Linked DNA regions of Homo sapiens: region 2 is linked to region 1. Evidence: fine-mapped expression QTL. A gene starts in region 1. The other region holds a variant in brackets. All regions are shown on one strand. Distances are between the middles of the regions.

Region 1 (5,376 bases):
TGTTGGTCAGGATGTTCTCGATCTCAGGACCTCATGATCCGCTTGCCTCGGCCTCCCAAATTGCTGGGATTACGGGCATGAGTCACCGTGCCCGGCCGATATATATTTCATATACCATAAAACTCACTATTTTATTTTATTTTATTTTATTTTTTTGAGGCGGAGTCTGGCTCTTGTCACCCAGGCTGGAGTGCAATGGTGCAATCTCTACTCACTGCAACCTCTGCCTTCCGTGTTCAAGTGATTCTCCTGCCTCAGTCTCCCAAGTAGCTGGTATTACAGGCACCTGACACTACGCCCAGCTAATTTTTGTATTCTTAGTAGAGATGAGGTTTCACCATGTTGGCCAGGCTGGTCTTGAACTCCTGACCTCCAGTCATCAGCCTGCTTCAGCCTCCCAAAGTTTTGGGATTACAGGCATGAGCCACCATACACGGCCTAAAATTCACTAATTTACCAGCCTGGGCAACACAGGGTGAACTCATCTCAAAACAAAAACAAAAACAAAAAAATTAGCTAAGTGTGTTGGTGCATGGCTGAAGTTCCAACTTCTTAGGAGGCCAAGGTGAGAGGATCGCTTGGGCCCTGGAGTTCAAGCCTACAAGTGAGCCATGGTTACACCACTGCACTCTAACCTGGGAGACCCTGTCTCGAAAAACAAAAGTAAAATACAAATTCACCATTTAAATCATAAAGTGTCTACTTTGGTGGTTTATGGTATACTCACAGTTTTGCAACCGTCATCGCACTCTAATTTTAAAAGGTTTTCAACACTCCAAAAGGAGACCCCATACCCATTAGCAGTACCTTCCCATTTCTGCTCTTTCATCCCTCAACCCCAGGCTACTTTTATGTTTCTTGGCTGTATGTGATTTTGTTATGTTTGTTTATTTTGGATTTATTTTATTTTGGATTTATTTCTTTCCTTTTGACATGGAATCTCATTCTGTTTCCCAGGCAGTGCTTCATCTCAGCTCACTGCAACCTCCACCTCCTGGGTTCAAGCGATTCTCTTGCCTCGGCCTCCAGAGTAACTGGGATTACAGGCGCCCATAACCACGCTCGGCTAATTTTTGTAGTTTTAGTAGAGATGGGGTTTCACCATGTTGGCCAGGCTGGTCTCGAACTCCTGACCTCAAGTGATCTGCCTGCCTCGGCCTCCCAAAGTGTTCAGATTGCAGGCATGAGCCGCTGCGCCCAGCCCATTTCGGATTTTTAGAAATTGATTACAGATTTTATTTATTTATTTATTTGATACAGGGCCTCTTTCTGTCTCCTAGGCTGGAATGTAGTGGCCCAATCATAGCTCATTGCAGCTCAATTCCTGGGCTCAAGGGAATTCTCCTGCTTTAGCTCCCAAGTAGCTAGGACTACAGATGTGTGCCACCATGCCCAGATAATTTTTAACTTTTTGTAGAGACGAGGCCTCACTATGTTGCCCAGCCTGGTCTCAAACTGCTGGCCTCAACCAATTCTACCACCTCTGCCTCCCAAAGTGCTGGGATTACAGGTGTGAGCCACCCCACCAGGACCCTGATGGGAGAAATTTTGCATTTATCATGATGATCAACCATTTCCTTATCATGTGTATTGCAAATATATATATATGTATATATACGTATATATATGTTTATATATGTATATATGTGTATATATGTATATATGTATATATGTGTATATATGTATATATGTGTATATATATGTATATATGTATATATACATATATGTGTATATATATATATTTTTTTTCTTGAGACGGAGTCTTGCTCTGTCATCAGGCTGGAGTGCAGTGGCACAATATTGGCTCACTGCAACCTCTGCCTCCTGGGTTCAAGTGATTCTCCTGCCTCAGCCTCCCCAGTAGCTGGGACCACAGGCGCCCGCCACCACTCCCGGCTAATTTTTTTGTATTTTTAGTAGAGACGGGGTTTCACCATGTTGGCCAGGATGGTCTTGATCTCTTGACCTCATGATCCACCCGCCTCGGCCTCCCAAAGTGCTGGGATTACAGGCATGAGCCATCGCGCCTGGCCGTGTACTGCAAATATTTTTTATCCATTTGTTCTACTTTGTTGATGGCATCTCTTCTCGTACAGATGTTTATATTTCTTTCAATATTTTCTTTTATGATCTTTTGACTTTGATTCATGAGTATAAACATTTTCCCTCCTCCAATTATAGAGCTTCTCCCCATATCTTCTTCTGGTCTTTTACAGTATTGCGATTTGTCTGTTTTCAATCTATTTTTTTTTTTTTTTTGAGACGGAGCCTCTCCGTGTCGCCCAGGCTCAAGTGCAGTGGCGCGATCTCTGCTCACTGCAAGCTCCGCCTCCCAGGTTCAGGCCATTCTCCTGCCTCAGCCTCCCGAGTAGCTGGGACTACAGGTGCCCGCCACCACGCCCGGCTAATTTTTTTGTATTTTTAGTAGAGACAGGGTTTCACCATGTTAGCCAGGATGGTCTCGATCTCCTGACCTCATGATCCGCCCGCCTCAGCCTCCCAAAGTCCAGGGATTACAGGCGTGAGCCACCGCGCCCGGCCTTCAATCTATTTTGAGTTTAGTTTGAGACAGTAAGACTAAAAGCACTTAACATACATTATTCCACTTAATCCTCCAGGCCATTCTGTTAAGTGGGGGTTATTTTCTTCTTCATTGTACAAATGTGGAAATGGAGGCAGGTCGATTTAAATAAGGCCGCAGAGCTAGAAAGCTGCAGAGAAGGGGTTTGAACCCTGCACCTCTGGGGCCAGGGCAGTGCGGGTGGCCGTCCGCGAACCCTGCTAGCTGTGGTGCTCGGGGGCAAGCTTCCGAGGGCGCGGCGGGCGCGAGGAGCGCGTCCGAGACTCGGTGGAGCGTCACCGGCGCAACCCCGCGTGCCCAGCTCCAGGCCGTGTTCTCCCAGGTGCGGGCCGGCGGGACCCCGCCTTCGGCCCTGGCGGCGCGCGCTCGCCTAGCGGGCGGGCACTCGCGCGCAGCGTTTGTGTTGCCTGCGAGTTTCCCGAGTTCACACAGGCCCTGGGTTGGCATGGCAACCAGGCAACCTGTTCCAGAGCCGCCAGCCTTCTCCGCACATGCCGCTGCCACCGCCGGGGCCGGGGCCGGAGCCTATCCCAGGATGCACCGCGCCAACCCAGTCCCCAGTGGGCCGCCATGTTGTCGGAGTGAAAGGTAAGGGGGAGCGAGAGCGCCAGAGAGAGAAGATCGGGGGGCTGAAATCCATCTTCATCCTACCGCTCCGCCCGTGAGTATCCGCACCCCACCGGCCCCAAACGCTGCTCCGGACCCCTAACGAGCAGATTGTCCCTTCATATTGGTGTTTGAGAGTGGTTGTGGGGGTGAGAAGGGCTTTGGAAAAGCCGCCGGGGCCCTGGCTGAGGCTTCTCACTCGCTGTTCCTCGTACATGTTTTGGAGTCAGCAGCAAGGCCCCTATTGTTATCAAAGGAGGGAGGGGGTGGGGAGCGGGGTCGAAGCTAGGAAAATGCTGGGGGTTTAGGCCCGAGCCCAGGGCGTAGACGTGCCTCTACATTTTTGCCTGGCCCTGTTGGGAACCACCGAAGATTGATGTTGCCATTCGGGTTGCTTTTTTTGATGGGTTTGCGAAGCCCCGAGTCTTCTGTGTGGCCATGAAGTGTAATTCTGTGCCACCCCGATTTCTTCGACTTCTTGAGCTTCCGTGGCAGCGCCGGAGGAGGAGGAACAATAAATCGCTTTAGAAGCAGCCGTGGCCCTTGTCCACAGGCGAGATTCACCGTGGGGGAACTTTGCGAGCCTTAAATGTGGAGAAGTGGCGATCAGGAAGTTTCAGAATGCTTTTTAGGCTCCTGGGTTGCTGTGGCCTTTTGTTTCCGTGTGAGCTTGTGTTTTTGGTGGGTTCTTCCTTTTTGAGCCTCCCGGTGTTGGTGTCTCTCTTCACTCAAAGAGGGGTTCACCCCTTGCTAGTAGGAAAATCTAGATACACAATACTAGTTTTAGTCCTCACAAACATGCTTGGTAAACATAGATCATTTGTTTTACTTGTCAGTACCATTCCCACGTCAAGTGAGGAATACACTCCTGTAACTTTTCCCTCCTATAGCCCCCCCCCCCCCCCCCGCTGAAAAAACAAAGCCAGAAACCCACACACAGCATTACCAGAGAAGGCTTTATTCTCCCGTAACTTAGATTGTTACCTTTTATTGTTCAATTAAGAAAACACTGTTCTCAGCCCTCGATACCATTTTGCTCAATTCCTGTTATTACTGGGATTAATTAAGAATAAGATTTTATGAAGCTTTTCCTGGGTTCTGTTTTAAAGTCAGTTAACTTCTGAAACAATAGGCTTAGCATTTTGTTTCTTGAAAGCACCTAAAAACTTACTAAGACAGGCCCAACCCCAAGAAATGTGGCTTCCGATGCAGTTTTCGTAAGCAAAATAAACATTTTGACCCTTTGCTAATTTTAACTTTATAAAACACTGGGGGGCTGTTGATTCTTTATCTGGGCTCTTGGGAAACGCTCTCCGGATTCTGAACTTTGAGTTAGTGTTTTGCTTTAGCGACAATTGAATTCATTTTGTTCAAGGCCACAGCTTTTTGAAGTTGGAATTTGTTTAGTTTAGGTTTAAAATGAACTGTTTTAAGATAAATTTATGACCACAGAATGTTTGTTAAGTGTGGTAAAAATAAACACCTTTTAAACCACTAAGCATTTTAGTAAAAGGTGAGCCATGGAAATAAAGTAAACCGTGTTCCTTTGAATTCAACTCAATTAGTGATATTTTAAAAAACTTTGTAAACATTTGAAAGCTGTGAAAGAGTAGCTGGACTGAGCACTTCTAGTTGCTTAAAGTACTTATAAGGTGTCATTTGTAAAAAAATCACATTTTAAATGCTACACGTATTAGTGAGCTTTTCTGATATTTAGGATACTGAGTTTTTAATTTTTGTGCCGTATTTGCCAAAATACCACAAAACTACCCAAGATAACATGTTAATTGCTTAGGTATTTGCTCACTTTGAAACTGTTCTGCCAGGTTTTCTCTGGTTTGAGAAACTGCCTTGCCTCTTTAGGTAAAGCAGGAAGTCTTAGGGCATACAGATAGCTTTACAAAAGCCAATTGTTTCGTTTGAACATTTTTATAGGAGTCTTTTCTTTCCCCCATTCCTTTTAGAATGAAGGTGTGTTTAGTGTGCGTCAGTGATAAACTCCTCTTTTATGTGGATATTCTTTGTTAGATAACTTTTTTCTTTTAAAAATTTTTATTTGTATAATTTGTGAGGTACAAGTGTAATTTGTACATGCGTGTATTGCGTAGTGGTGAAGCCAGGGCTTTTTGTGTGTCCATCACTGGAATAACGTACATTGTCCTCCTTAGGTAATCTCTCATTATCCTTCT
Region 2 (5,376 bases), 59 kb before region 1:
AATAGTTCCTGACTGCATGTGAGACGCACCGATCCAGTCTCCTTATAAAAAATGTATGCATTACAGCTAAGGCAAAGATCTCCTATGAGCATCAAACCAATCCCAACCCTTTTAGAGGCTACCACAGCTATCAGTTTGATGTGTTTGATGACTTATTTTTATTGAAGCTACTCAGTATTTAGGTACTTTTAATCTGAAGGCTCATGTCTTTCTTCTATTCTGGAAAAATCCTCAGATCTTATTTCTTAAAGTATTTGCCATCCACCCCATTCTCAACTCCTGGACTGTATGTTAGATGCTCTCAGAATGGCCTCCCTATTTCTTATTTTCTCCCTCTTTTCCTTTTCCTTCCCTTTTCCTTCTGGGTCAATTTCTTAGTACTACATTTTTTCCTGCAATTTTACTATTATCATTATTATTATTATTTTGAGATGGAGTTCCACTCTTGTCATCCAGGCTGGAGTGCAATGGCACGATCTCGGCTTACTGCAACCTCTGTCTCCCAGGTTCAAGCGATTCTCCTGCCTCAGCCCCCTGAGTAGCTGGGATTACAGGCACCTGCCACCATGCTGGCTAATTTTTATATTTTTAGTGGAGATGGGGTTTCACCATATTGGCCAGGCTAGTCTCAAACTCCTGACCTCACATGATCTGCCCGCCTTGGCCTCCCAAAGTGCTGGGATTACAGGTGTGAGCCACCGTGCCTGGCCACAATTTAATTATATTATAATAAAGCAATAAAGAATGTTTCAGAGCCTAGTGATGGATCATTTAGTCTAACATCTCATAACAACTTTGAAAAGCACAAGATATCAAATTTTTTTGTTTTGTTTTGTTTTGTTTTTGAGACAAAGTTTCACTCTTGTTGTCTAGGCTGGAGTGCAGTGGCACGATCTTGGCTCACTGCAACCTCCGCCTCCTCGGTTCAAGTGATTCTCCTGCCTCAGCCCCCCAAGTAGCTGGGATTACAGGCATGCGCCACCATGCCTGGCTAATTTTGTATTTTCTGTAGAGATGAGATTTCACCATGTTGGCCAGGCTGGTCTCGAACTCCTGACCTCAGGTAATCCACCTGCCTCAGCCTCCCAAAGTGCTAGGATTACAGGCGTGAGCCACTGCACCCGGCTGATATCAATGTTAAAATTGTGGCATATAGAAAGTTTAATAAAGAAGGAAATGTGGAGAGTAAAATGTAGTTGTAATCCTATTAAAGGCCTTGTCCATTTTCTTTTTTCGTCTGCCAAGAACAAGCAGAGAGTCTTGTCCGTGATGAAAGACTGACAGTGTATTAAAATGTTTAAAGTATTAGGAGGTGGAACACACTTTCAAAGGCAGTTAATAACATTCGCCATATGAACAGTCATTTGATTTAGCACAATAATCTCAGCGTGAAATGTGTAATTTTGCACATAACTGAGTGGCCCCTCCATCTCTGCTACACAGCTCACAGCTCCCTAACCTATCCCGCCCCAAGTCTGACCATCATAAATGCACATCCTCTTTACCTCACTCAGGAATCCAAGTCCCATAATGATTACAGAATGGCTGCTCAGATTATACTCAATAGCCCTGAGATGGGAGAGCCTGAAAGCTAGCCAGTTTCAACGACTTTCACCAGGAACAAAGAACTTAATGATCATTCTCCAGCAAACTAACTTATTTTCCAATACCTCCTTAACCTGGGACCTAACTACGTGTGGTCTCTTTGTTGCTATTCTTGTTTACTAATTATGAGTGCAAGAGATATTTTAATCCAGATATGCTCAATGTATTTCTATTTCCTAATGACAAAGAAGGCTTGATGTGCACAGTGCGATGGGTTATCTTTTGTTCCTTTTACTGTGCTCTGATTTGTTACCCATTAAGGCATATTTGGGCAGAAAAAAGAAAAACTGGGAAGTGGATTGCAACACACACATTTCTTTCTTTTTTTTTTTTTTTTTGAGACGGAGTCTCGCTCTATCACACAGGCTGGAGTGCAGCGGCATGATCTCAGCTCACTGCAACCTCCGCCTCACAGGTTCAAGTGATTGTCCTGCCTCAGCCTCCTGAATAGCTGGGATTACAGGTGCCCGCCACCTCGGCCGGCTAATTTTTGTATTTTTAGTAGAGACGGGGTTTTGCCATGTTGGCCAGGCTGGTCTTAAACCCCTGACCTCAGGTGATCCGCCCACCTCGGCCTCCCGAAGTGCTGGAGTGAGCGAGCCACCGCACCCTGCCAACACACACATTTCTTTTTTCTTTTCTTTTCTTTTCTTTTCTTTTTTTTTTTTTTGAGATGGAGTCTCGCTCTGTCGCCCAGGCTGGAGTGCAGTAGTGGCACAATCTCAGCTCACCGCAACCTCTGCCTCCCAGTTCAAGCGATTCTCCTGCCTCAGCCTCCCGAAAGCTGGGATTACAGATGTGTGCCACCACACCCAGCTAATTTTTGTATTTTTAGTAGAGATGGTGTTTCATCATGCTGTCCAGGTTGGTCTCGAACTCCTGATCTCAGGTAATCCGCCTGCCTCTGCCTCCCAAAGCACTGGGATTACAGGTGTGAGCCACCGCGCCTGGCCAACACACAAATTCCTTAAACTGAGAAACCTCTGAAAACATGTGATCTAATTCAGCTTTTCCCTAGAAAAAAATTAAAGAGGCTGGGTGTGGTGGCTCATACCTGTAATCCTAGCACTTTGGGAGGCTGAGGCAGGCAGATCACTTGAGCCCAGGAGTTCAAGACCAGCCTGGGCAATGTGGCAAAACCCCATTTCTTAAAAAAATACAAACATTAGCCAGGCGTGGTGGCACACACCTGTAGTCCCAGCTACTCAGGAGGCTGAGGTGAGAGGATCACCTGAGCCCAGAAGGTCGTGGTTGCAGTAAGCTGAAATCGTGCCACTGTCTCCAGCCTGGGTGACAGTGAAATCTTTTCTCAAAAATAAAAAAGAAAAAAAAAATTAGGGCCGGGCGCTGTGGCTCACGCCTGTAATCCCAGCACTTTAGGAGGCCGAGGCGGGTGGATCACAAGGTCAGGAGATCGAGACCATCTTGGCTAACACGGTGAAACCCCGTCTCTACTAAAAATACAAAAAATTAGCCGGGCGCGGTAGCGGGCGCCTGTAATCCCAGCTACTCGGGAGGCTAAGGCAGGAGAATGGTGTGAACCCGGGAGGCGGAGCTTGCAGTGAGCCG[A/T]GATAGCGCCACTGCAGTTCCACCTGGGCGAAAGAGCCAGACTGTCTGAAAAAAAAAAAAAAAAAAAAAAGCAAATTTGGTGCTTGTTCAAGCACTCTTATCATGGTGTCAAATTCTAGCATAAATTATAACACTCAAAACATACGTACTTTTAAAAGAAAAATAAAAGCAAGCCATTTAAAAATAATATTTTTGGTCAGGCATGGTGGCTTGTCCCTGTAATCCCGGCACTTTCGGAGGCCAAGGTGAACGGATTGCTTGAGTCAGGAGTTCGAGACCAACCTGGGCAACACAGGGAGATTCCATCTCTACAAAAAAATTTAAAAAATTAATCAGGCTTGATGGCACACACCTATAATTCCAGCTACTTGGGAGGCTGAGGTGAGAGGATCCCTTGAGCCCAAGAGTTAAGAGGCTGCAGTGAGCTATGATCGCACCACTGCACTTCAGCCTGGATGATAGCACAAGACCCTGTCTCAAAAAATGAAATAAAACATAAAAACCAAAAAAAAATTTTTTTTTCTAAATGTCACTTGATGGTTTTTTGTTTTTGTTTTTGTTTTTTGAGACAGAGTTTCGCTCTGTCACCCAGGCTAAAGCGCAGTGGTGCGATCTCGGCTCACTGCAACCTCTGCCTCCCGGTTCAAGTAATTCTCCTGCCTCAGCCTCCGGAGTAGCTGGGATTACAAGTGTGCACCACCACACCGGGCTAACTTTTTTCTTCTTTCTTTTTTTTTGTATTTTTAGTAGAGACAGGGTTTCACCATGTTGTCCCGGCTGGTCTCGAACTCCTGACCTCATGCTATCTGCCTGCCTTGGCCTCCCAAAGTGTTGGAATTACAGGCGTGAGCCACTGTGCCCAGCCTAAAAACTAAATCTTACTATTGGGCTATTTTGCACATCTTTTGGTATCCAGATCAAAATTAGTGGAAGTGAAATGGAAATATAATCTAAAAGTATTTCTGTCTGCTAGATTCTTAGGCCCAGAATCTGAATGGCAGGGAAAGGAGGTTCTGCTCATCTTACTAATTATCCCTTTTTTATCTGGAAGTAACTGCTGCTTTCTGGCTGGTTTATTTGTGCCACTTTCTTTTTCTTTGTAGGAAATGGTGTAAATGGGGGTAGATCTTCTTGGTTTATGTTCAGGAGAATGTTTCTGACCTTTTTTTTCCTATTAATATTGCAAAACAGCGTTCCTCGGGGCTTCCCAAGCTTTGGTCTCTTGGCAACAGACTTCGGTCAGAGCACAGTTACCAATAGGCTGTGGAGGGTCGAATTCAGCACGACACACACAGCACTGGCTCCAGGGATCCAGGGAGTGGGAATGCTGTGCTTAGCAGTCTTCGAAGGCAGGCTGGGGTTGAATATTGTGCCTGTCAGATAAACCTCATCCATTAGCCGCTCTAGTAGGTGCGGCTTTTCAGCTGCATCACATTGTGGAGCATCCCATGGACAATGGAAGGCTTTTTTTTTGTTTTTTTGCTCTTTTGTTTTGAGACAGGGTCTCTGTTAACCAGGCTGGAGTGCAGTGGTGCAATCACAGCTCACTGCAGCCTTGACCTCCTGGGCTCAAGTGATCCTCCTGTTTCCTCCTGGGACTACAAGCACACAACACCATGCCTGGCTAATTTTAAATTTTTCATAGAGATGGGGTCTCGCTATGTTGCCCAAGTTGGCCTCCAATTCCTGGGCTCAAGAGGTCCTCCCACCTCAGCCTCCCAAAGTTGCTGGGATTACAGGCATGAGCCACCATACCCACCCAACAATGAACATCTCCACTGAACACCGACGTCTAGTTCCTTCAGCACGTGGTCTTGGAGCAGTTGCCTGCTGGAGACACATTTTAGCTGGAGTGCGATGATGCTGGACAACAGAGTGTACTTGCCAGAGCCTAGGGCCCCCAGGCTCACTGTGATCAGCAGCTGCTTAGAGACATCTGTGCTGGAGAGAAAATCAGGCTGCCTCCAGGCAGACCGGGAGGAGAGTTTTGGCCTGCCTGGCCTGCTCACCCAGCTCTTTCTCATCTTCACTTGCTAATTTGCATGCCTTTTTTGGAGGGGGGATGGGCAGAGTTGGTAAGTCTTTTAACTCACTTGCACACTTACTTGTCATCTATAATCATGCTCCTCCACTTTTTAACATCTTTTAACAGGGGTATAATTTTCTTAGAATGAAATCCTTAGATTTTAAGTGGAGTTGGTT

The links. PIP is the estimated chance that this variant, and not a neighbour inherited with it, causes the effect.
Region 2: its variant is the best candidate, but not a certain one, in a credible set for the expression of PUM1 in whole blood (TOPMed, PIP 0.52).

The regions. Positions count from the first base shown.
Region 1 is chr1:31,063,482-31,068,857 of GRCh38, reverse strand. PUM1 (pumilio RNA binding family member 1) reads left to right here and starts at 3,141. Exons shown (of 22, transcript NM_001020658.2): 1 at 3,141-3,242. RefSeq lists a silencer at 2,835-3,054 and enhancers at 2,383-3,297, 3,165-3,484.
Region 2 is chr1:31,122,031-31,127,406 of GRCh38, reverse strand. No RefSeq gene overlaps it. Among named protein-coding and RNA genes, the nearest start is that of PUM1, 59 kb to the right of the region's middle. RefSeq lists an enhancer at 4,720-5,221. The variant A/T (reference allele first, on the strand shown) is at 3,175.